Homo sapiens: one gene and its partners. The protein of the gene in region 1 purifies or fractionates together with the protein of each later gene. This does not show direct contact. Each region holds a gene or a part of one and is shown in the gene's direction. Other genes may lie near its edges. The genes, in order: DMWD, USP12, WDR6 and GAK.

What was found.
Region 2: the proteins of DMWD (region 1) and USP12 purify together in Homo sapiens (affinity purification with mass spectrometry; 3 studies listed by BioGRID and IntAct, with this or other methods). This does not show direct contact.
Region 3: the proteins of DMWD (region 1) and WDR6 purify together in Homo sapiens (affinity purification with mass spectrometry; 2 studies listed by BioGRID and IntAct, with this or other methods). This does not show direct contact.
Region 4: the proteins of DMWD (region 1) and GAK purify together in Homo sapiens (affinity purification with mass spectrometry; 3 studies listed by BioGRID and IntAct, with this or other methods). This does not show direct contact.

Annotation. Positions count from the first base shown.
Region 1 is NC_000019.10:45,789,816-45,797,700, reverse strand, and holds the start of DMWD (dystrophia myotonica WD repeat-containing protein), read left to right. Parts: upstream 1-4,855; 5' UTR 4,856-4,944; coding exon 4,945-5,385; intron 5,386-6,613; coding exon 6,614-6,796; intron 6,797-7,885. Other genes in the region: RSPH6A (radial spoke head protein 6 homolog A), read left to right, coding at 1,595-1,832. UniProt on the Homo sapiens protein: Regulator of the deubiquitinating USP12/DMWD/WDR48 complex. Functions as a cofactor that promotes USP12 enzymatic activity.
Region 2 is NC_000013.11:27,070,792-27,077,821, reverse strand, and holds part of USP12 (ubiquitin carboxyl-terminal hydrolase 12), read left to right. Parts: intron 1-2,433; coding exon 2,434-2,631; intron 2,632-6,672; coding exon 6,673-6,751; intron 6,752-7,030. UniProt on the Homo sapiens protein: Deubiquitinating enzyme that plays various roles in the regulation of the immune response and inflammation.
Region 3 is NC_000003.12:49,003,074-49,010,415, forward strand, and holds the start of WDR6 (tRNA (34-2'-O)-methyltransferase regulator WDR6), read left to right. Parts: upstream 1-4,317; 5' UTR 4,318-4,358; coding exon 4,359-4,458; intron 4,459-4,531; exon of another isoform or gene 4,532-4,586; intron 4,587-7,342. Other genes in the region: P4HTM (transmembrane prolyl 4-hydroxylase), read left to right, coding at 1,025-1,187, 1,788-2,097, 2,645-2,794, 2,991-3,114, 3,614-3,834. UniProt on the Homo sapiens protein: Together with methyltransferase FTSJ1, methylates the 2'-O-ribose of nucleotides at position 34 of the tRNA anticodon loop of substrate tRNAs. Required for the correct positioning of the substrate tRNA for methylation.
Region 4 is NC_000004.12:848,775-852,344, reverse strand, and holds the end of GAK (cyclin-G-associated kinase), read left to right. Parts: intron 1-370; coding exon 371-595; coding exon of another isoform or gene 596-798; exon of another isoform or gene 799-1,036; intron 1,037-1,260; coding exon 1,261-1,409; intron 1,410-2,276; coding exon 2,277-2,453; intron 2,454-2,570; coding exon 2,571-2,672; 3' UTR 2,673-3,068; downstream 3,069-3,570. UniProt on the Homo sapiens protein: Associates with cyclin G and CDK5. Seems to act as an auxilin homolog that is involved in the uncoating of clathrin-coated vesicles by Hsc70 in non-neuronal cells. Expression oscillates slightly during the cell cycle, peaking at G1.

The DNA of each region.
Region 1 (7,885 bases):
AGATGTGGTTTCACCAGGGTGGTCTCGAGCCCCTGACCTCAGTTGATCCTCCTACCTCGGCCTCCTAAAGTGCTGGGATTACAGGCCTGAACCACCGCACCTGGCAGGGAGTTTTGTCTAGTTTGTTTACTGCTGTGTCCCCAGCACCTAGACAATTTTATTTATGTCCCACATGATATGTTGGACATAAATAAAGTGTCACAATATAAATAAATTGATATCCAACATAAAATTATGTCTCACATAAATAAAATATGAGCCACATATATAATTTAATTTTTTTTGTTATTTTTAGTTACTTATTTCTTTTTTTTTTTTTTGAGACAGAGTCTCACTCTGTCACCCAGGCTGGAGTGCAGTGGCGCGATCTTGGCTCACTGCAAGCTCCGCCTCCCAGGGTTCACGCCATTCTCCTGCCTCAGCCTCCCCAGCAGCTGGGACTACAGGCGCCTGCCACCACGCCCCACTGATTTTGTTTTTGTATTTTTAGTAGAGACGGGGTTTCACCGTGTTAGCTAGGCTGGTCTCGATCTCCTGACCTTGTGATCCGCCCGCCTCGGCCTCCCAAAGTGCTGGGATTGCAGGCGTGAGCCACTGCGTCCAGCCTAGTTACTTATTTCTTGATTTATTTTGAGATACGTTCTCACTCTGTCACTCAGGCTGGAGTGCAGTGGCATGATCACAACTTACTGCAGCCTCAAACTCCTGGGCTCCGGCAATCCTCCCCCCTCAGCCTCCCCAGTAGCTGGAACCACAGGTACGTGCTACTGCAACTGGCTAATTTTTAAACTTTGGGAGGTGGAGGCGGCAGATCACTTGATGTCAGGAGTTCAAGACCAGCCTGGCCAACATGATGAAACCCCCTCTCTACTAAAAATACAAAAATTAGGCCAGGCATGGTGGCTCATGCCTGTGATCCCAGCACTTTGGGAGGCTGAGGCAGGCAGATCACTTGAGGTCAGGAGTTTGAGACCAGCCTGGCTAACATGGTGAAACCCCGTCTCTACTAAAAATATAAAAATTAGCTGGGCGAGGTGGTGTGTGCCTGTAGTCCCAGCTACTTGGGAAGCTGAGGTGGGAGAATCACTTGAACCCAGGAGGCAGATTTTGCAGTGAACCCAGGAGGTGGAGTTTGCATCCAGCCTGGGTAATACAGAGGAACCCAGTGAGCACATTTCACCCTGCCATCCACAACTTTGCAGTCATGCTATGCACATGCTGGGTCCTACCCTTAAAGAAAGTCAAGGCTGGCCAGGTGCGGTGGCTCACGTCTGTAATCCCAGCACTTTGGGAGGCCGAGGCGGGCAGATCATGAGGTCAGGAGTTCCAGACCACACTGGCCAACATGGTGAAACCCCATCTCTACCAAAAATACAAAAATTAGCTGGGCGTAGTGACGCGTGCCTGTAGTCCCAGCTACATGGGAGGCTGAGGCAGGAGAATCGCTTGAACCTGGGAGGCAGAGGTTGCAGTAAGTCGAGATCACACCACTGCACTAGGCAACAGAGTAAGACTCCATCTCAAAAAAAAAAAAAAAAAAGTCAAGTCTGGGGCCTTTGAGGGAGAATTTCACAGTGTCTCACTGCTTCTCCAGAAAGTTTGAGAACATCTACATCGGCTGGGGTCACAAGTACAGCCCCGAGAGCTTCAACCCGGCCCTGCCAGCCCCCATTCAACAAGAGTACCCCAGTGGCCCAGAGATCATGGAGATGAGTGACCCCACAGTGGAAGAGGAGCAGGCTCTGAAAGCAGCCCAGGAACAAGCCCTGGGAGCCACAGAGGAGGAGGAGGAGGGCGAGGAGGAGGAGGAGGGCGAGGAGACAGATGACTGAGGCCCACCCTCTAGCCACTTTCCCCAAGCAGGTAGATAGCAAATTTCCCCTTAGAGGTAGTTAGCATGGATTATATTTTCACTATGTGCTTCCTGTCCCCAGAGGGCAGGGATAGAAAAGGAAGGCAACTGCTTCAAATAAAATTCCTCCACGGCATTATGGATGAGCCATTCATTCATTTGTTCACCACCTCTGTTGACATGGACTCCAAGCCAGGGCTGTTGGGCCCTGCAGAGAGCACAGACATTGCCTGGCAGAGTCTCTCCCACCTGTTTGGTTTTTGTTGTTGTTGTTTGAGACAGGGTCTCATTCTGTCACCCAGGTTAGAGTACAGTGGCACAATCTCAGCTCCCTGCAGCCTTGACCTCCTGGGCTCAAGCAGTCCTCCCATCTCAGCCTCCGGAGTAGCTGAGACCGCAGGTGCACATCACCACATACACTAATTTTTGTATTTTTTGTAGAGACAGGGTCCTGAGTAACTAGGACTGCAGGCACAGCCCACCATGCCCAGCTAAATTTTTTCAATTTTTCAGAGTCTCACTATGAGATGGGGTTTATGTTGCCCAAGCTGGTCTTGAACTCCTGGCATCAAGCGATCTGCCTGTCTTGGCCTCCCAAAGTGTTAGGATACAGCTGTGAGCCACCGCGACCAGCCCCACCTGTTTTATTTATTCATTTACCTAGCCATCAAACCATTATTGAAATACCTCCTGTCAGCCCACCCCTGTGCTGGGGACACAGACAGCTGCAGTCCTGCCTTCCTGGACCTCACAACACTATAGGGAGAGAGACTCATTTCCAGACAGTGACAGCCCAAATGGGGAAGCCCAGAGGACTGACAGAGCTCCCGAGCCAACTCTTAAAGGGTCAAGAAAAGAATGGGGAAAGGCATTCCAAGAATAGGGAACAGAATGTGCAAAGACCCAAGGACAAGAGAGAGTGTGATATGTTGGGGTAGTTTTTCAAGCCTCATTTTAGGTGGTGGATAGTGTGAGGAGTTAGTGGTGAGATATGAGATTGAAAAGAGGTTGGCAGGGGCCAGATCACTTGGGGCTTAACTTTCCCCTGAGAGCACTAGGGAGCTACAGATGGGTTTTGAGCAGGGGAGGGCCCTGATCATATTCATGCTTTAGAAAGACCTCTCTAGGCCTAGTGCAGTGGGTCACACATGTAATCCCAGCACTTAGGGAGGCCAAGGTTGGCGGATCACCTGAGGTCAGGAGTTTGAGACCAGCATGCCCAACATGGTGAAACCCCGTCTCTACTAAAACTACAAAAAAGTAGCTGGGTGTGGTGGCAGGTGCCTGTAATCCCAGCCACTCAGGAGGCTAAGGCAGGAGAATCACTTGAACCCAGGAGGCAGAGGTTGCAGTGAGCCAAAATCGTCCCATTGCACTCCAGCCCACGTGACAAGAGCGAGACTCTGTCTCAAAAAAAAAAAAAAAAAAAAAAAAAGCCGGGTGCAGTGGCTCATGCCTGTACTCCCAGCACTTTGGGAGGCCGAGGTGGGTGGATCACCTGAGGTCAGGAGTTCGAGACCAGACTGGCCAACATGGTGAAACCCCGTCTCTGAGCCGAGATGGAGCCATTGCACTCCAGCCTGGGTGACAGGGTGAGACTGTCTCAAAAAAAACAAAAACAAAAACAAAATAAAACCTCTCTACATGCCAAGTGAAAGGTGGAAGTGGGGGTGAGACAGAAATCTGGGAGACCAAGAGACACGGTTGATGTGGGGGTGGGGGAAGGGCTTGGGTAGAGGAGAAGCTTGGATCAGGGAGAACAAGGAACTGAGAAAGAGGAATTCCACGTGGTCGAATGCAAAAGACTTGGAGGCTGTAAGCGGGGGCAGAGTGAAGATAAATGGTACACATCTAGGAAGACACCCAGGTCTGTGGCCTGGTTGACTGAGTGGACGGCAGAGCTAGCCCTAAGGTGGGGATGCAAGAGAGGTGGAGGATTTGGTGTAAGACGTCAATTTCATTGTAGGATTCTTTTTTCTTTCTTTTTTTTTTTTTTTTAGAGAGACTGAGTCTGACTCTGTCCCCCAGGCTTTAGTGCAGTGATGTGAATTCATAGCAGTCTTGATCTCCTGGGCTCAAACGATCCTCCCACCTCAGCCTCCCAAAGTGCTGGGATTCTCGGATTCCAGGCATGAGCCACCATGCCCGAACCATTGTAGGATTTTTTTTTTTAAGTGTGAGATGCCCTTGGGACACTCTAGGGAGAAATCGTAGAGGCCATTGACTACATGAGACTAGAAAGATCTATGATGGGGCTGGGTGGCTTCAGCAGACATGGGGAGCACTGGCTATGAGTAGGAGCTGTTGGGATCAGGGGGAGACTTTGGGTTACGAGTGGATCACTGGGACACTGGGGCACCGTGGGGATCAATACAATTTGGGAATCAGAGGTAGGTTTTGGAGGACAAGTGAGGTTGTTGAAAATAAGAAAATCATGGAAATATACATTGGAGGTTGGTGGAAAATATGAAGGATGTTTGGAGTTAGCATTAATCAATAGTGGGTCAGAGGAAGTCCTCTGAGTTGTGTGGGGACACAGGGATTTGGTGGGTCACCAAGGGTGGGGAAGAATGGTAGCAGATGCTGTGGTCATTCAGGGATTTGAATATGTCAGTGGGAAACACTGGAGGTCAGGGGAGTGTATATTGGGCGTCTAAGGAGAGACCAGGGTCACTTGGGGTTGGCTGTGACTTCATGGGAAGGCTGGACTATGGATGAGGGCTTCTTTGTCGTGGGGGAAAAAAAAAAAAAAATCCCTCCGTTGCTAGGCAAACGTTCCCAGGGCGCGGTTGCTAAGGACTTGAGCTTTCTAACTGGCCACGCCTCTTTCCATTGCGGGCTCCGCCCCCGCAGCCAACCACAAGTCGGTCACAGGCTCAAAGGCCGCGCCCACCTTCTCGCCCCGCCCACAGTCCCAGCACCGTTACCCGAGCGACCGCGGGGATTCGTCCCGCCTCCGGATCTGGGTGCCAATCGAAGAGGCGTTGCCCGGGCGACGACCCCACCTTTTCCGGCGCGGGCCAGCGGCTTCCGGGAGGGGGCCCGGCTGCGGGCGGCAGTCCGGCAGTGGCGGGGCCCGGGGGGCGCCCAAGATGGCGGCGGGCGGCGCGGAGGGCGGCTCGGGCCCCGGCGCCGCCATGGGGGACTGCGCGGAGATTAAGTCGCAATTCCGCACGCGCGAGGGTTTCTACAAGCTACTCCCGGGCGACGGCGCCGCTCGCAGGTCGGGTCCGGCTTCCGCCCAGACTCCGGTGCCGCCTCAGCCACCGCAGCCCCCGCCCGGCCCTGCCTCCGCCTCCGGTCCCGGCGCTGCAGGCCCCGCGTCGTCCCCGCCGCCCGCAGGCCCCGGACCCGGGCCCGCCCTGCCCGCCGTGCGCCTCAGCCTCGTGCGCCTCGGGGAGCCGGACAGCGCCGGGGCCGGGGAGCCGCCCGCCACGCCCGCGGGGCTGGGCTCGGGGGGAGACCGCGTCTGCTTCAACTTGGGCCGTGAGCTCTATTTCTACCCAGGCTGCTGTCGTCGTGGGAGCCAACGGGTGAGCGGCCTGCATCGTGGGGCCCTGGGTGCTGAAAGGATGGAGGTTCCAGAGAACTGATAGGAGGGTCCCCGAATTGATATGGGGCCCTGAGATAGGCATTCTAAATGTGATGGACGTTGTAGGGCGACAGCATTGGAGGGAGTACAGGATTCTGAAATGTGATGAGAGGCCCGCGGGGTGCTGGGCAGGCATCTTGGAGGTGATGGGGGAAATCCCCTTTACCCCCGTTATGCGTAGGAGTTCTGGGATGGTGACTATTGGACATGATGGGGTATCTGAGATGAGGTGGGATCCCCCGGGTTCTGGGGTGGCAGGCATTCTGCAGGTAATGGGGAATCATGAGGTGATGCAAGCCCAGAGGTGATGGAGAACCCAGTATTGCAGCCTGGAGGTGTGGGAGAGGGGTCTTGAGATTGAGCCCAGGAATGAGGAGAAGTCTAGAAGTGATGGGGGCCTTGAAGGTGATAGGGGATCCAGAAGCTGAATGGGATTCTAGAGAAAATTGGGGTCTGGAAGTCATGAGGGTCCTGGAGGAGATGAGCGTCCGGAAGCTGATGGGAGCTCTCAAGGGAATGAGAGGCCCTGGCAGGGGAATCTGCAGGTGTGATTCAGGACATCTCTAAAGCGATGTGGTGAGAACCCTGGCCGTTTATGGTGATCCCAGAAATGATGGGGATCCTTCGGAGCCCCTAGGTAATAAATGGGCCTAAAATGTGGGAGACCGTGAGGTTTGACGGGTCCCAGAACTGTGGCGGTTTAGGGACTACAAAGTGAAGAGAATGCTAGGATGTTAGGCTTTAGAGTCCTGGAAATTTGGGTGACCTCAAGGTTTGGGGGTCTTGGAATAGTGTGGTACTAGGTCCCAAGGGAGTTGCTGAGGTTATAGGATGGAGTGGTGAGGCTAAAAGGAATCGGAGCTTAGGAACTGTGTGGACCCAGAACCCTGATTATGTGGACAAGGGTGTCTCTGAATTAGAGGTGACCCAACTTTGGGGAGGCACTGTGGTCAAGGGGGATCCTTACCATCTTTTTTGCTACTCTTGTCTGTGATTTGGGTCCCCTTCCCGTCTGTGGTTGCCCCGTCCTTCGCAATCCACCTACTCACCTCCCCACTTCCCTCTGGGTTCTAACCCTGCTTCCTCTTAGTGGTTTCCCCCAACCTCAACATCCTCTTCCTTCTCCTCAGTGGCATACACCATTAACTCCTTTTCTCCCACCCCTCAAGTCCATTGACCTCAACAAGCCAATTGACAAGCGGATCTACAAGGGCACCCAGCCCACCTGCCACGATTTCAACCAGTTCACTGCTGCCACCGAGACCATCTCGCTGCTGGTGGGCTTCTCAGCGGGTCAAGTGCAGTACCTGGATCTCATCAAAAAGGACACCAGCAAGCTGTTCAATGAGGAGGTGATTGCAGCCCCCAGAGCCCCCAACTTCTCTGCCTTCTCACCTACCCACTATATGCCATTAGGATGCAGCTGCCTGCGGAACAGTGTAGGCCTGAGAGGGGCAGGACCAGGGAGAGATGGAGAATGGGGTGACAGCAGCTAATGACAGCTGCCTTTACTGTACCCAGGCCCTGTGCTGTGTTACCCTTGTGCTGAATACTTTACTCCTTGGGTTTTCTTTCTTTCTTTCTTTCTTTTATTTATTTATTTTGAGATGGAGTCTCACCCTGTCACCCAGGCTGGAGTGCAGTGGCGCGATCTCTGCTCACTGCAAGATCCACCTCCCGGGTTCATGCCATTCTCCTGCCTCAGCCTCCTGAGTAGCTGGGACTTCAGGCACCTGCTGCCACGCCCGCCTAATTTATTGTAGTTTTAGTGGAGATGGGGTTTCACCGTGTTAGTCAGGATGGTCTCGATCTCCTGACCTCGTGATCTGCCCACCTCGGCCTCCCAAAGTGGTGGGATTACAGGTGTGAGCCACCATGCCCGGTTCTTTTTTTTTTTTTTAATTGTAATTGTAATTTTTATTGTTTTTAATTTTTTTTTTCTTTTTAAGGCGGAGTCTCACTCTGTCGCCCAGGCTGGAGTGCAGTGGTACAATCTCGGGTCACTGCAACCTCCGCCTCCCAGGTTCAAGCAATTCTCCTGCCTCAGCCTCCTGAGTAGCTGGGACTACAGGTGCGCACTATCATACCTGGCTAATTTTTTTTTTTGAGATGGAGTCTCGCTCTGTCGCCCAGGCTGGAGTGCAGTGGCGCGATCTCGGCTCACTGCAACCTCTGCCTCCCGGGTTCACGCCATTCTTCTGTCTCAGCCTCCCCAGCAGCTGGGACTACAGGCGCCCAGCACCACGCCCAGCTAATTTTTTTGTATTTTTAGTAGAGACGGGATTTCACCGTGTTAGTCAGGATAGTCTCGATCTCCTGACCTCGTGATCTGCCCGCCTCGGCCTCCCAAAGTGCTGGAATTAAAGGCGTGAGCCACCACACCCGGCCAATTTTTGTATTTTTGGTAGAGATGGGGTTTCACCATGTTGGCCAGGCTGGTC
Region 2 (7,030 bases), on another chromosome or scaffold:
CTTTGGTGTTTTGGTGACCTTAGTGTTTTGAGCAGGAAATCAACTTCTTTTTTCTTCCTTCTGCTGCAAAATCTACATAATGAGTTTCAGACTCCTTACACGTATGTTCAAGCAGTTTTCTGCTTTTTTTTGGAGCCATTTCAATATGAGGGAAATTTTGTAAGCTAGTCTCTCATCATCTTTAAAATATGGCTCCACACATATTTTTGCTTGACAATTCCATGGGTAGTTGGTTTCTTTGTGGTAGCCAGCACTTCTCCTCTGGGAGGATCTTTGGCAAATAGGATTCATATTCTTCATGTGTTATCTTATTAAACATATTGTATCTGCTATTATTGAGATATTTTCTCTTTTCTGCATTTGGACTCCTCCCCTTGTGTAATTTCTAAAAGCACATTTTCCCTAACCATCGGGCCATGTTCATTCTCTTTCCTCCTCCTAATCTTACCTGACTGCCATTTATTAATAGTGCACTGACACTCATTTTATGCTCAGAAAATTCTTCTTTTGCATCTACCATCCATTGGAAATTCTCAAAGGATACCTTGTTGTTTTGTAAAGATTTCTTTTCAGTAACTCTATGTGGGTTTAATAAAAGGTCTGATGTTTCATAGTTGAATTATATTTTATGTATAATTTTATATCCTGACTTCTTAAGTATTTTCTTATGTCACCTAGAAACTTTCATCAGCATTGTTTTATTTAAGTTGTACAACACTCGGTTATGTTTGAATTCTAATTTATTTCCACATTTCCTGTTGCTGAATAGTTGGGATTTTTTACAATGTAAAAGAACTCTAATAGGAGATTATTCTCATAAGGGATGTTTTTGAGATTATACATTTAATTGTATTTCCAGAAATAGGATTACTGAGACAAAGGCCATAAAGGCTCCTAATTTATATTGGTGGATTGCTTTCTAGGAGTGACTAGGTGTTTACCTTTACTTTGGCTAATGTTTCCAAAAGGCCAAGTTCATTCACTAGTAAGTAATTTAGGAATAATAAGCTATCCACCATATTTAAGAAGTGTAGAATGCAGATTTAGTATAATGTTATAAAATGATTTTTTTTTTCACTTATTAGAGGCAGTGGCTTACCATATATCACTTCTTTAAATTGTGAGGAGTATTTTGCTTCACCAGACCCATTTAAAATTCAGTTCTGCAGCATTTGGCATCTATCATATGTCAGGCATGTTGCTAGATAGTGGGGAAATAAAAATGAAGGGAATGCTTTCTAGCTGCCAAGAGTTCAGGGCCTAGAAGAAAAGAACCATAATCACCTAAAATTGTTACCATGTAATAAGCTTGACATATATAAAGTGAACCTGTAAGGTGCTGATGGAGGATTGAAGAGAGCAGGTGTATTTGTGCCAGAGGGTGTGACATTTGAGCTGAGCCATTAAAAGAAGAATAGATTTTTAGGTGAAGTAGGAGTACAAAGGCACTCTCAGGGAGAAATGGCATTTAAAGGCATAATAAAGATTGTTTAGAACATGAAGAACAGCCTGTGTTTCACAGTTAAAAACTTAACTCCTAAGTTTCCAGGTTATTTTACTCCCTTTCTAGGATATACATTGTCATTTTTCTTAATATGGAGTTATTTCTTGTCTCTGACAAGCACCTTGATTGGTCTTTAGTGCTTTTATTGTTTTAGTCTCCTATTGTCAGTCTGTACCTGCATCATATAGATTGATAGAAAAAATAGATTTCAGTCTACCCAAGTCCAAAGGAATTGTCAGTTTCAAGAAACTTGTTTTCCCTCTACCACTCTTTTTTTTTTTTTTTTTTGAGACGGAGCCTTGCTCTGTCACCCAGGCTGGAGTGCAGTGGCGTGATCTCAGCTCACTGCAACCTCCGCCTCCTGGGTTCAAGCGATTCTCCTGCCCCAGCTTCCCGAGTAGCTGGGACTATGGGCGCCTGCCACTATGCCCGGCTATTTTTTGTATTTTTAGTAGAGACAGGGTTTCACCATGTTAGCCAGGCTGGTCTTGAACTCATGACCTCAGGTGATCCACCTGCCTCGGCCTCCCAAAGTGTTGGGATTACAGGCGTGAGCCACCGCGCCTGGCCTTCCCTCTACCACTCTTGAGCACCCCGTGCATTTAGCCTTATTATAAGAGACGTGTGTTTGAAAAATACAGATTCCTTAACCAAGGACTAACGCCATTCCATCTGTTTTGGAGCCATATTGAGTGCTGTGTCAAATTATGTGGTGTGACAATGATGGGTAGGGTGGGGTCATATTAAGATGTTCAGAATGTTGTTTTGTCAGTATAAAAATAATTGATAGAAATGTGCAAAACTGGGCATTGCTGGGCTATTAAAACTGACCATTGTCTATCTGTTCATTGGATATCGTAAAGTTTGATAATTCAAGGACATGGTGGATATCTTTTATGAAATTTTGTTTTCATTTTTATTTTTAATAGGATGAAAGTTAAAAAACTGCCCATGATTCTAGCTCTACACCTGAAGAGATTTAAATATATGGATCAACTTCATCGATATACAAAACTCTCTTACCGGGTAGTTTTTCCTTTAGAACTTCGTCTGTTTAACACTTCAGGTGATGCCACCAATCCAGACAGAATGTACGACCTTGTTGCTGTTGTGGTTCACTGTGGAAGGTAATTGCAACTCCGGGGACATAGTAGTGGAATTCCTAGGTTAGAAGAGCAGGGTACATTCAAGATGTTCATGAATTATTCATATATAGAACTTTTAGAAATTCTGTATTCTCTCAAGATAATTTTATTTCAAAATGGAGTTTTAGCTTTATGTTTTATCATTTCTTAAAAATTTTATATGTTAAAATATATTGTTTTTATTTTTATTATTTATTACTCTACAAGTACTATATCTGATTTCCTAGAACTTTGAGATCTGTTAGTTTTTCTTTTCCTTTTTTGGGGTGTGTGTATAGAGGGTTGTTGGTTAAAATAAATCACTTCTGAGTTTAATTGCGTATGTTCAGCATATCAATGGTTGTAAAAAGCATTTTAAAATGGCATTGGAAATAATCTTCAAAGATTCATTTTTTGATTTTACCTGTGTGTGTATTTATCATTTCTTATTAGCCAATTTTGCTTTCTGTCTTCTTCTCATCTTCTTTTCCAACATGGTATACACATCTTCTCTGTATGAACGTACATACCTATAATTGGCCTTATTAAATACCTCAGAAAATTCTCAAACTGCAAGAGCATCACATAATCAAAACTTGTATTTGGAACATAACTGTCTTCATTGACTGCTTAGAATTTCCTTTAATAATTTTAAAGCAGGCACTCATCATTTTCCCCTTGGTTTTGGGAAACTTGTACTAACAGCATGTTTTATCCAAATAAAAAAAGTTACAGCTTTCTCATCTTCAGCCCTCCTCCCAGCTCTCTGATTAGAATTTTTTTTTTTTCTTTTTGAGATGGAGTCTTGCTCTGTGGCCCAGGCTGGAGTGCAGTGGCGCCATCTCGGCTCAGTGCAAGCTCCGCCTCCCGGGTTCACGCCATTCTCCTGCCTCTGCCTCCCGAGTAGCTGAGACTACAGGCACCCACCACCACGCCCGGCTAATTTTTTGTATTTTTAGTAGAGACGGGGTTTCACCATGTTAGCCAGGATGGTCTTAATCTCCTGACCTCGTGATCTGCCCGCCTCGGCCTCCCAAAGTGCTGGGATTACACGCGTGAGCCACCGCGCCCGGCCTCTGATGAGAATTTTTAAGGACAATCTGGAGGGAGCAAATGCTCTTTAATAATCGTCTTCTTCCTCCATTGCCTGGGTCAGCCTTGGGTCCCGTCTTTTATCCTCAGCAAGAATCTTTCTTCTACTTCTAAATTAAGAGTGATCACATCTTAAAGGAGTGAAGCAGTGTCAAGATTACTTAAAGAACCTTGGTGTAGTGATTCAGACCGGGTTTTCAGAGTGAGAGAAACTTGGATCTCAGTACCATTTCTGCCAATTGTGGGCAGTGTAACGTTATGCATAGCTTCCTGAAAAGCCTTCAGTTTTCTCTTCTAGAAAATGTAAATAATACTAATTACCACATTGCTTTGTTAGGATTCAAAGGGAGATGTAAATCGCTTAGCTACTGCTACTGTTCTATTAACAAAAATGTAATATTACCTTCTCACATCTTAGCTTTATAATATTTACTTTCTCACACCGATTAGCCTCTTCAAATTTAGTGACAGTCCTACTCTACTTAAATCATGCTAGATTTTTAGAATTGCTCTACTCACAATATACTGAGCTGAGATGCCTGACTCATTGGGGAGGGGTCCCCTCCCCACTCTCCCCTTTTAAAATTAACCCAACTCTTTCCCCAGCCTTAAATCCTTAAGTCTCTTGACCCTTTCCCTTTTTAACCTTTTCTTTGGCCTCACTTGCTTCTCCCAACTTGAACTCCACAGTCAGTTATTTAAAGCATGTTCTCACAAGCACTGTAAAATCCTCTTGCCAGCTGTCTGAATCCCTACTGTCAGAATTGTTGCAGAAAATTGCAGAGAGATGTTTATTGACTTTCCTCACAGCCCTGGTGGTCTGCCTTCACTGGGAACTCTCTCCTGATGGAGTTCTGCACAGCAGGTCTTTGGTATCCCGCCCCCACCCCAGGGTCTTACTCTTTCTCCTGTCTCACTCTCATTGCCTCATGCCTTCCTGCCCCTCCGCTCTGGAAGTCTTCCTTGACGCTCTTCTGCCCAGCCTCAGTCTCCATGTGGTGCTGCTCCATTGTCTTCACATAAATACTAGACGTGCATTGCTAGCCCTGTCTTAGTGCTTTATGTACTCTCTTAGGATGTATGTCTACTTCCCTTATGAGAACAGGTGCTTTTTAAAACAGAAAATAATTTGCTCACTAATAAAAGACTAATCATATTTTAGAATCTTTTTCCATTGTGTATTTTATTTATCAGACTTATTTGTAGATTTGCTTCATATGAAAGTGTGGAGGGTGTGCGCAGCCTCATTATCAGCATGTCAGTTCCAGTTCAGCTTGCTCCTTCTCTGTCCCCGGTGCCCAGCCTAGAAGAGACTTCTAGCAAATGTTTGTTGACTTAAGTATTACCCTTCAAGCCCATGTCAAAACTGGGCACCATTTCGTGATTTCCCATCCCTCTCTCCCTTCTACCTCCTGTCTTGCTGGATGAGGTCTCTCCTGTGGCTCTACTTTTATATCATATTCTTCCTTGGATTATGTTTTTGGAGTAGTTATCTATTGTACTGAAGGGGTATTTGGGCAAGCAGTTGTTGGTATCTCTTTAATCTCCACAGCAATCAATAGTTATTTGCATACCTTACGCATTTGTATCTACTCAACTGAGTGTGTTTAATGTCCAGAAATCAGATGCCTAAGAAACAACTTCCTTAGGTGGAAGTTCAGCCCTTCATCTCTCATTTCATTTTTAGTTTATGAAATTAACTTTTGTCTACTGTTCCTCAAACTAGTTCTTTGCCAAAGGAAAAAGCCGCCTAACTTTTTTCAATTTACCAGTCCTTACCCCACCCACCTCCTTTCCTTCCACCCTGTGTTCTGCAACCTTTCTTTGATTTTTCTTTATTTCACCTTTTATAATTTTGTTTTCATTTCTGACCCTCTCCCCATAACACACAAGACCCTTTAGATGAGCCTAAATAAATACAGAAATAGACTTAAAGCATTAAATGCTTTTTTAAGAAAAAGTTTTGATGTGTCATCCTCCATAGTTAAAAAAAAAAAAGTATTTTTGTTGGTGTCATTCTGTCAAAGATATTTATCTCACCTACAGGATCAAATGATCTGAGAAACATAAGATATTATAGTAGGTGGCTTATTCTAATATCTGGTCACTACTTTTAAAATAGTGTTCACCATAAAGAATAATTTGTGTTGAAAAGGATTTTAACTTCTGTATTAATTATAGAATTACAATTTAATAAATATAATTATATGAGCCTTTATAATGAACCATACTTAAACTGGAAGAGGTTAAAACCTTTGTCATATCCTTTTATAAAGAAAAGGAATTATGCTTCTTTTATTTTTATGTATATCTACATTTATATATTCCAGATTTGTTTGAAATGAGATGCAGGGGCAATCATAGTCATAGTTATAATGGTATTAAGAATTAGGTACTTAATAATGACTTACCATTGAGCAAAGGTCATTTGCTTTTAAAGACATTTTATGAAGTTCAGGCTTGATTTTGGAACCAAGGATTTGATATCCTTGCCTGTTTCAAGCATCATATTGGATCTTTCCTCAAGAAAAAAACCATTACCAAGGGAGTGAGACTTAGAAATAATTCTATATGCATTGTTTTATAGTCCAACTCAGCATGTTCTGCTGTGATCCCCTCCCTTATAAAATGATAGAAAAATATGTCTTTTATTATAGAAGCAAAATTGAAAATTATTACAAAGACAGTAAAAAATTTCAGTAATATAGCTGTATGTGAAAAGAATACTGATATATCTCTTAGAGTACTAATTATTTGATTTTAAAATTGATGACCAGTTCAACTCAGTGTAGCTTTATCTCTTTTGGCAAGAATAGGTAAGGGGTATAAAAAAGAAGCAGTTCTTTTTTACTGCTATTTATCTGTTTCTGTTTCTTTATAAAACAAAATTTAGAGCATGAAAGAGTAATATTAATAAATATATTGAATTAACTTCTTCTTCGTTTGTTTTAGTGGTCCCAATCGAGGCCATTATATTGCAATAGTTAAGAGTCATGATTTTTGGTTGTTGTTTGATGACGACATTGTAGAAGTAAGTAGTTTCTTAATTTCTTATTTTTGAAAGTTGTATGCATATGTTGCTTTTCACTTTTTTCTCATAGTTTTTCATTTATATATGACTGGTGATGATATGAGACAAATGTCTGGGTCTATAGATTGTAGTCTAATTCCTACTTCTTACTCTGCAACGTCCAAGCCCAGCAGTTGAGTGGTCACCTAACCTTTACACACCTAGAATAAAACAAGGGAGGCCAGGTGCGGTGGCTCACGCCTGTAATCCCAGCACTTGGGGAGGCTGAGGCGGGCGGAT
Region 3 (7,342 bases), on another chromosome or scaffold:
CCTAAAATGGTAGTGCTGCTACCTGTGCTAACTGCTGGGGAGGGGTGGGCAGGGAAGCTGTCATGCAAGTGGTGCCCCCTCTGGTAATAACTCTCAGGAGGTTTCTGAGGTGTGGTCATCACCCTCATGCCCAAATTCTGGACCAAGAGAGGAAGATACAGCAGTTAGAAAGGACTTGGAACAGTGGCTTTGCGGCTGGTGAACCAGAGTGAAGAATCTGGCCGTGACCTGTGGCTGGATGGCTGCCACACTGCTATAGGCCCCAGAACAGAGGTGGTGACAGTCTCACAGCCCTTGAATGTCCCCCACCCTCAGAGGAATCTGGGCCAAAGAGTGGAAGGTGATGTCCTTGGGTCAGCCAGAATAACATGGAGCAAAGATACCAACTACTCTTCCAGAACCCCAAGAGGGTAGAACCCCTGCTTAATGGTTTGAGCAGGGACAGTGGAGAATGTTCTCATGAGAGGGGGTGGCCTGACTTTCGTTGCTAAGGTGGGCTGGTAACGCAGTAGGCAGGGCTGGCGAAGTAGGTTCCACCCAGGATGAAACCTGGGGTCATGAGGAACTCCCCGGGGGCTGGCCCTGCTTGCACCCTGGCGTATGTATGTAAGGCCCTGGATGAGGCCCAGCACTGCCTGCTCTCTCCTCACCCTCCACAGGCCGGAGAGTGGCCACCACTCTATATAGCCAGGCTGGAAGGCCAGGGTCCTGGCCATATGGCTCAAGCTTCCTTTGGAGAACCTTCTCTGGCCACTCTAATAGGGGGTGGGCCTCTTTCTTCTTAGGGCCAAATTAGGGCTTAAACTGAGAAAAGGAACTGCTCTGGGTCTTCCTGTAAGGCCTGATGTGACAGAAACCAGGTTCATCTGACCCAAAAGTCCAGGTGGGGGACAAGTGTACAAGGCCCCTCAGTGCCTGAGGTCAGGGGCTGCTGCTGCCTTTGGGGTAGGTAGGGAAGTGCAGCCTGCCACTGTTGCCTCCCAATATGGGCTTGGTGGGCATTGATGGTGGGTGCCCTGTGCAGGAGTGCTGAGTCTGCAGGAGTTCTCCAACATGGACCTTCGGGACTTCCACAAGTACATGAGGAGCCACAAGGCAGAGTCCAGTGAGCTGGTGCGGAACAGCCACCATACCTGGCTCTACCAGGGTGAGGGTGCCCACCACATCATGCGTGCCATCCGCCAGAGGTGAGCACCTGAAGCTGTTCTCACTGGAGCAGGGGGAGAAGACTGGGCAGGGCCTCCACAGAAGTCCTTGTCTGGGGCCAAGAGGACAGAATGGATTAACCCATTTGGGATTAAGTTCCATTTGTTAGACCAGGATTGGGACCCACTGAAAGACAGGCAATTAACAAAGGCAAATTAGCCCTCCTTGCAGGCACACAATGGGCAACTGGGGTTAGATAGAGATTGAGCACTTCTTTCTGATTAGATAAATGACCTCTTATCTTTGACCCCTTATCTGACCCCGTCACAGCAGGAAAAGGGTTTTTAAATAAACAACTTTCTTCCAGGGAGGAGGACCTCAGGACTCCCCGCCCCCTTTATTTAGTGGAAATGTCAACATTTCCACATAGCAGGTGTCTCTGTCTTTGGCATCTGAGGGAGAAGGATCATCATGAGTAACCCCCTCCTGCTCTTACAGGGCCAGTCTGAGATGGCTTAAGGGACTTCCAGGGGAGGTGGGTAGGGGCAAAGCTTGTGGCAGGCCTAGGGTCCACCTTGGCCAGCTCCTTCAGATCACCACCTTGCCTGGGGCTGCCCAGCCAAATGCCTGCTGCCCACCAGGGTGCTGCGCCTCACTCGCCTGTCGCCTGAGATCGTGGAGCTCAGCGAGCCGCTGCAGGTTGTTCGATATGGTGAGGGGGGCCACTACCATGCCCACGTGGACAGTGGGCCTGTGTACCCAGAGACCATCTGCTCCCATACCAAGCTGGTAGCCAACGAGTCTGTACCCTTCGAGACCTCCTGCCGGCAAGTATCTCCCAACTGGGGGCTGCCTTCAATCCTCAGACCAGGAACACCCATGACACAGGCACAGCCCTGCACTGTGGGCGTGCCCCTTGGCATGGGGCCAGGAGATCACTGGGTTATCCCGGTTAGTGATGCCCTCACCTCTCCCCACAAGTTGTTTACCCAATGGCTGGAAAGGGGTGGCTACTGGTCATCGTGACCACTGGAGTCAACACAGACTGATGTACCCACAGACACCAAAACTTGCCCCCTGAGTTCTGAAGCAAGGGGCAAGGCTGGGCCCCTAGCTTGTCCTGCCCATTCCTCCAGGTGTTGATCTTGATTCCACTTAGAGAAGCTGAAGCTGTGCCTCCCTCCCCTGTCAAGCCAGTTCTTTCCTCTTCAGGTGGCTGTTCTGGCCCAGCCCCTTCCCATCCCCAAGGAGCCCTTCAGCGCGCCCTGTTGCTTCTGCTAGCCTACCTTTCCCTGCCAGGCCCTTGCTCAGGGCCATGGCATTTAACTAAGTGCACCTGTGATCTTGGCCAAAAAACCATTGCAACTCACAGTAAGAGACTGGGTTTCGGGGAAGGAGGGGCTAGGGACATTTTGGCACTGGCCTGCCCTATTGTCTCCCATCCTAGTCTGTCCTGGTCCCTGGCAACAGGAACCTGGGCAGCTTATCCTGCCCACAGGTAAGCCCCTGGGAGCATCCACAACTGGGGACCTGCTCAGTGCCCCCCCTGCCTTACAGCTACATGACAGTGCTGTTTTATTTGAACAACGTCACTGGTGGGGGCGAGACTGTTTTCCCTGTAGCAGATAACAGAACCTACGATGAAATGGTAAGGGTCAACTGGGCTATTACTCTTGTGGGCTGGCAGGGGCTTAGACAAGTGAAGTACACACCTCTCCAGGTCTAAGGATGTGGGCCCAAATTATTCCTTGGGCATATCTGGTTGGTTTCCCTTTGGTCACCCTTGGCTGGCCTGGCCATAGAGTGGGGACAGGTTGAACACCCCACCACCCTGCTGCCCACAGAGTCTGATTCAGGATGACGTGGACCTCCGTGACACACGGAGGCACTGTGACAAGGGAAACCTGCGTGTCAAGCCCCAACAGGGCACAGCAGTCTTCTGGTACAACTACCTGCCTGATGGGCAAGGTGAGGGCCTATGGCCAGGCCTGGGGGGGGTGCCCTGAGTACAGCTTCCCTTTACCCAGCCCCCGTCTGCCACAATGGAGGGCTGTTTCTGGCTGCTTTCCAAATAGTTTTCTGCTCCTGGTGCCTCCCAAAGGCCATCCTTAGTGACTTTAGCAGACTGCCCCAGGACCTGTACTGCTTATTGGGTTATATCCATCCCTATCATTCCCTGATGCCCCAGCCTTCCTACTCCCTGGGGCTTGGGACACATGTCCCTTGCTAACCCAGGATGGGAAGGGATATGGACAGGCCCAACAGCAAGAAAGCTGGTTTCAGAGGGCCAGTAGTGTTGACTATACATTAGTGGGCTGAGATGAGGAGCCTCCAAGGAAGCTTTAGGTCTGGGTGTTTGCTACACAAGGAATGCATAGCTGGACCCACCTTGGTCATGCTCTTGGTGCCTATGAGGCCAAGCTCTGGCCAGCCCAGCCTAGGATCTCACGTCACCCTCCTCTTCTAGGTTGGGTGGGTGACGTAGACGACTACTCGCTGCACGGGGGCTGCCTGGTCACGCGCGGCACCAAGTGGATTGCCAACAACTGGATTAATGTGGACCCCAGCCGAGCGCGGCAAGCGCTGTTCCAACAGGAGATGGCCCGCCTTGCCCGAGAAGGGGGCACCGACTCACAGCCCGAGTGGGCTCTGGACCGGGCCTACCGCGATGCGCGCGTGGAACTCTGAGGGAAGAGTTAGCCCCGGTTCCCAGCCGCGGGTCGCCAGTTGCCCAAGATCAGGGGTCCGGCTGTCCTTCTGTCCTGCTGCAGACTAAAGGTCTGGCCAATGTCTTGCCCCACCCCGCCAGCCGCGATACGGCGCAGTTCCTATATTCATGTTATTTATTGTGTACTGACTCCATCTGCCCCGTCAAATAAAAAACCACAAGGTTCGAGCCGCCGGGCCCGACAAACTCCGGGTCGGCGAAACAGAGTCCGCGATAGGTGCAGCGGGCTGGCAGCTGGGAGCGCCCCGCAAGCGTCACGTGAGGGGGCGAGGGGCGGGATGCCCCTCCGCGGGCCCCGCCAATGATGAGCTGGATTGCGTGGGACGAAGGGTCGTCATTGGACAACCGCCGCGGGCGCCCTGGTCTCTGCTACCTGTAGCTGAGGGCGCTGTTGATGGGCAGCGCGGCGCGCTGGGAAGGCTCGTTCTCGCGAGAGTTCAGCTCCCTTCTTAGCCGTGGCTGCCTCAGCACCTCGAGGATCGACATGGACGCTCTCGAGGACTACGTTTGGCCGCGGGCAACCTCGGAGCTTATACTCCTCCCAGTGACGGGTCTGGAGTGCGTGGGGGACCGGCTGTTGGCGGGTGAGGCTTGGCTTGAGGCACGCCTGGTGGAAAGGGGGAAAGAAACAGCGCCTCCCAGGGGCGGTGCCACAGGGACAAAAGGGGTGCCCTGAGGAGAAGGACGGGCAGCAGGTTGAGGCCGATCGGAGGTGGGAAGGGAGCCCCGGAGATGGCGGGGACGAGGGCCAACCTGAAGAGGGCGGGGCCCGAGAGACAAAGCTGATGTGGCCGCCGCGGCGCTTCATAAACTTCAGCCCGCGTGGAAAGGGCGGGTGGAACCGCGGGAGGGTGCAGGGGAACGCGGCCGCGCGGAGGCGGAGGCGGAGGCCCGGGAGCTGAGGGTTGAGGGGGTGTGCTCCCTTCTAGGAGATGGGCGGGGGCTTGGCCTCTCCGAAGGAGACGGGGCCGAGCTGGGGGGGGCGGAGGGAGGAGGAGGAGGAGGAGGCGGAGGCGGCCCCGGCCCCTCAGGGGGTGTGGCCTCTTGGGGAAGGCGGGGCCGGGAGAGGGCAAGGGTGTGGCCTCTCGAGGGCGGGATGAGTCTCTTCCCCCTAAGGTGGGGGTGAAGATCCTCTGAGGAGGGTGGCGTCGCGGAAAACGGCGGATAAGACCTTTCCGAGTAGGGGGCGGTGCCCGGGGAAGCAGGGGCTGAGACCCCCTCCTGAGATGGTTGAGGTCCAGGAAATCAGGTGTGGAGGTCCCTCCAAGGAGAACCGGGTCGCAAAGGACAGGCGAGGCCTGGGACCTGAGGTGTCAGAGTCCAGGCTGGTCTCGAACAGTCATTACATGAAGCCACTAATGACCCATGTTGGTGCTGCTGAGTTGTATAAGGGTCCTGAGGCAGGGCCTTGGCGGTCAGGCCTTGAGTGAGTTGCCACCAGTCCTAAGAGGGTGTGTGTATGGGGTGGGGATGATCCAGTTTTGATCTGGTGTGGGGGTTCTTGGAGCGCGGAGTTCCTACCGCGAGCTAAACTCCTAAGGCTCCTTGAGGGGGAACAACGAAGCAGAAACTCAAAGAACCACAAGAGTGAACTAGGAAAAGGGGTGAGTTCCTGGCAAGAGGGTAAGCATGCCAAAGGCCTTGAGGCTGGAAGAATCTGTCATTTTGGGGGAAGGAGGGAATTCTTGTGAAGTTAGAGCAGGAATGGAGTCTGGGAGGAAAGGAAGCTGGACAAGCGAGCAGAGGCCACATTGTTTCAGGCCTTGATCTGACTTTATCCCTAAGGGCAGTGGGGAGAACCTATTGAAGGGTTTTAAGGTGGGGAATAACTTGGGAAATGCAGTTTAAGAAGCTCTGCAAGTGAATTCACCTACTTCTGTGGCTTCCAAAGTGACTTTTATATAGCTACAATTCTGTGTGTGTGTGTTTTTTGTTTGTTTGTTTGTTTGTTTTTGAGACAGTCTTCCTCTGTCACCCAGGCTGGAGTGCAGTGGCACGGTCTCGGCTCCCTGCAACCTCCGCCTCCCAGGTTCAAGTGATTCTCCTGCCTCAGCCTCCGGAGTAGCTGGGATTACAGGTGCCCACCACCATGCCCAGCTAATTGTTGTATTTTTAGTAGAGATGGGGCCTCACCATGTTGGCCAGGCTGGTCTCAAACTCCTGACCTCAAGTGATTCGCCTGCCTCAGCCCCCCAAATTGCTGGAATTATAGGCATGAGCCACCATACCCGGCCTCTCTAGCCTCTTCCTGAGCTCTTCATTTCCTGTTCCATCCACCATACTCAATGCTCTTGCCCATCTCAGGGCAATCATACATGCTGTTTTCTCCACCAAGAAAGCTGCAAACCCTCCCATTGCTCCCCACCCCCCCCCCCCCGCCCCAACATTTCCCAGTCCCCCTCTTCCGCCTCCTTTCCTCTGGCTAACTGCTGCTTATCCTTGAATCCTAACTCTAAATATTGTGTCCTCAAGTTGGCCTCCCCTTACACTCACCCAGTCTTGTTAGATTAGACCAGGGTTTTCTCAATCTTGCCTCGATTGACCTTTTAGACCAGATAATTCTTTGTTGGAATGCTGTTTGTGCATTGTAGGATGTTTAGCATCATCCCTGGCCTTACTTGCCAGTAGCACAACCCCTGGAGACAGCCGTACGTGTCTCCAGCTATTGCTAGATGTCTCCTGTGGGGAAAGTTGCCCCCTGTGGAGAACCACTGGATTAGACTTTCTCATTTTACATCTTTTATTTTCTTTTTGCATTGTCAAAATCCTTCTCATTTTATTTTACTTTTTTTTTTTTTGAGACAGAGTCTTGCTCTATTGCTCAGGGTGGAGTGCAGTGGTGCAATCTCAGGTCACTGCAACTTCCACCTCTTGGGCTCAAGAGATCCTCTCACCTCAGCCTCCCAAGTAGCTGGGACTACAGGCATGCGCCATTATGCCCAGCTCATTTGTATAATTTTTTTAGAGGTGGAGTTTTGCCCTGTTGCCCAGGCTGGTCTCAAACTCCTGGGCTTAAGCGAGCCTCCTGCCTTCCAAAGTGCTGGGATTATCGGTGTGAGCCACTGTGCCAGGCCCCATCTCTATTTTTTTTTTAATTAAAAAAAAAAAGTGAGGTGAGGAGGAGGCTCTGAGTTTGAGAAATTTGTGGTTGAAGTGAACATCAAGCGTGACTGATGAGGCTGGGCGCGGTGGCTCACGCCTGTATTCCCAGCACTTTGGGAGGCCGAGGTGGGCGGATCATGAGGTCAGGAGATCGAGACCATCCTGGCTAACACAGTGAAACCCCGTCTCTACTAAAAATACAAAAAATTAGCCGGGCATGGTGGCGGATGCCTGTAGTCCCAGCTACTTGGGAGGCTGAGGCAGGAGGATGGCGTAAACCTGGGAGGCAGAGCTTGTAGTGAGCCAAGATCGCGCCACAGCACTCCAGCTTGGGCGGCAGAGTGAGACTTTGTCTCAAAAAAAAAA
Region 4 (3,570 bases), on another chromosome or scaffold:
ACCCCCGTGGACAAGCCCCGGGTCTGCCTTGGCTCCTGGGGGTGACGTGGGGACACTGCCCCAACCCCCGTGGACAAGCCCTGGGTCTGCCTTGGCTCCTGGGGGTGGGGTGCTGCCTCCACAGCTGCCCTGTCCTGGTGTCTGCCCTCCATCCAGAGTGTTCCCGTCGCCCCAGCACCTGGCCTGTGCTCCAGCCCCTGGAGACCTTCACACGTGTGGGTGGAGCCGGCACCTCTGGACGGCCTCGAGTGATCGGTGTTCTATTTTGCAAGCGCATGTTTTCCAATATACGTGGTGCTCTGCGTTATAGAAACAGTAGTTGCCCCTCATGGACAACCAGATGCCGAGTTTCCGATCTCCATCTCCACAGGCTCACCAGCTGGATTCCCTCCTGGGGGCTTCATTCCCAAAACGGCCACCACGCCCAAAGGCAGCAGCTCCTGGCAGACAAGTCGGCCGCCAGCCCAGGGCGCCTCATGGCCCCCTCAGGCCAAGCCGCCCCCCAAAGCCTGCACACAGCCAAGGCCTAACTATGCCTCGAACTTCAGTGTGATCGGGGCGCGGGAGGAGCGGGGGGTCCGCGCACCCAGCTTTGGTGAGTCCCCCACTCTCTGTTGCTGTGGAGTTTGCAGAGACCTCCCTGAATTGGCTAAAGGTAGAACCTATGTTGTTTTCTTCATCTCAGAGCCCAGTCCTGGGACAGGCACGGCCAAGCCACTCAGAGAACGACGCGGTTTCCGATGTGTGTTCACTGGTCTCTCTCTGGGTCAGGCCTCTGGGTCCCTCTTGTTCCAGTGACACCTTCTTGACCTGTTTTTAACAAATGGCCTTTGCAACCCTGTCTTGTCTTCCCTCTTCTTTACTCTGGAGGCATCAGGATGGTAGCCCTGTTCCCGGGGGCAGCAGGTGGAATTGGGCCTGTGTGTCTCTGCAGAAAGTTTCTGTTCTTAACTGGGCTTTGTGGCTCACGCCTATAATCCCAGCACTTTGGGAGGCTGAGGCGGACAGATCGCTGGAGCCCAGGAGTTCAAGACCAGCTTGGGCAACAGTGATACCTCCTCTCTACAAAAAATGTAAAAATTAGCCAGGCATGGTGGCGCATGCCTGTGGTCCCAGCTACTTGGGAGGCTGAGGCAAGAGGATCGCTTGAGGCCGGGAGGCAAAGGCTGCAGAGAGCTGAGATCACGCCATTGCACTCTGGCCTGGGTGACAGAGTGGAGACCCTGTCTCAAACAAAAAAAAGTTTCTGTTCTTTTCTAGCTCAAAAGCCAAAAGTCTCTGAGAACGACTTTGAAGATCTGTTGTCCAATCAAGGCTTCTCCTCCAGGTCTGACAAGAAAGGGCCAAAGACCATTGCAGAGATGAGGAAGCAGGACCTGGCTAAAGACACGGACCCACTCAAGCTGAAGGTGGGTGGGTGGGCAGCTCTTCCTGGGAGCCCAGAGGCCTCAACCCATGGCCCCTGGAGCATCTGCTGTGCCTTATGGAGCCGGCGTCTCCAGACAGCAACCTTTCACCCCTGGAGCATCTGCTGTACCACATGGAGCCGGCGTCTCCAGACAGGGACCTGTCACTGCCGATGGGCCTGGCAGCCCTCAAGGACAGGGTGGCCTGAGGCCAGGGGGGCAGGGCAGAGTCAGGCCCCAGGCTGTGCTGCTCCCCACGTGCCCAGATGGCTCAGCGCTGGTGGGGGTGGGGTGGGCGGGCGTTACAGGAGTGAGTGCCCCGGGGTGTTTGCAGAGACTGTTGAGGGCAGGCGTCTCTTGGGGGCTGCTCTGGGTACTGAGCCTCCCAACCCAGGACGCTCACTGGGGGGTGAGGATGCAGCGGTCAGGCTGTCACTGTGCCGGCCCTGAGACACGCCCTGCTCTGTGGCTTGGCCGATGCCCAGCTCTGCAGGCCACATGCGCCTGTGACCTTGGGGTCCTTTCACAGGCACCAGGGACCATCCCCTTCTCCCTCGGAGTCTGGGGCCTGGGATGGGCCAAGGGGTTGCACCACCAGAACCAGGGTTTGTGTCCTCGGTGAACATCTGGCTGAGACGAGGGTCCCTCTGGCCCCAGGCCCTGAAACATGAAGACCACCTGGCCCTGTGTCGTCCGGAGTGGGCTCTATATAGTTGAGGGCAGGGCGTGCAGTGGGACAGTGTCTGTGAGCCGGGCTGAGCCCACCCCACGTGACCAGGCACTTCCTCAGCGTCGTGCCTCAGTTTCCGCGGTGCAGAGGAGGAGGGCAGGCAGGTGCCCAGGGCTCGGCAAGCTCCGTGTCTCCCGCAGCTCCTGGACTGGATTGAGGGCAAGGAGCGGAACATCCGGGCCCTGCTGTCCACGCTGCACACAGTGCTGTGGGACGGGGAGAGCCGCTGGACGCCCGTGGGCATGGCCGACCTGGTGGCTCCGGAGCAAGTGAAGAAGCACTATCGCCGCGCGGTGCTGGCTGTGCACCCCGACAAGGTGAGCAGAGCTGCCAGGCGGCCGCTTGAGGCCTTCAGGGGCGGGGCGGGGGGGGGGTCCTGCCCCGCCCGCCCCCGCATGCTTATAAGAGGCGCTTACACCGCCTGTCACCCATAGGCTGCGGGGCAGCCGTACGAGCAGCACGCCAAGATGATCTTCATGGAGCTGAATGACGCCTGGTCGGAGTTTGAGAACCAGGGCTCCCGGCCCCTCTTCTGAGGCCGCAGTGGTGGTGGCTGCGCACACAGCTCCACAGGTTGGGAGCCGTCGTGGGACCTGGGTCCCCACCGTGAGGACCCCGTGGGCGACAGCAGGTGTGGCCAGGGTGGGGCTCCGAGCCCCGGGTCACCGCCCGCCCAGCGTTCCAGGCACATGAAGAGAAAGCATTCCAAAGCCTCTGATTGTTGTTTCCTTTTTCTCCTCCCGAAGGAACAGCTGATTCATGCTCCTCCCGCAATTGTCACGTCTGTGATTTATTTGGTGTTTCGGGCGTGGCCTCTGGAGCCCCGGCACGTGGTGGGCCACGCTGCTGGCGCTCATGGGCCCTGGTGTTTGCACCGCACTTTGTAATCAGTCCCGTGGTTGTCTGTACAGAATTAAACTATTTTCCGATGACTGCTGTGTCTCCAGTGTGGATCCACTCGCCCAGGTGCCGTTCACCAGCTGGGGCACAAGGCTGTGCTTCCTCAGCAACCTTGCCGTGGTTGGATTGTTGCAGGGGCCGAGTGGAGAGGAGAAGCGGGTCCCGGGGCTGCAGCGGCTCTGGGCAGCTCTTCAGGGGGCCATAGAGCCCAGCCAGGGCAAGGCCAAGGGCGGGGGCCCCTGCAGTCCCCAGACCCCCTTCCTCCCCTCGGCCCCGGGACTCCTCTCTCCTCTCCACTTGGCCCCTGCCCCTGGGCCCTGGACCTAGGAGCAAGGGTGGGCTCCACACTGCCCCTGTGCCATCCCCGCAGGGCCAAGGTGGCCTCCGGGCTGTCGGGCTGGTGGAGGACCAGGGGCCCCTGGAAGGAGAAGGTGACCATGGTGAGCCCCCACCCCACAGCAGACTCGAGGAGGCCCTGAATCATAGCCCTGAACTCACCGCCAGGCTCTTCCTGTTTTCAGAGAATAATGACTG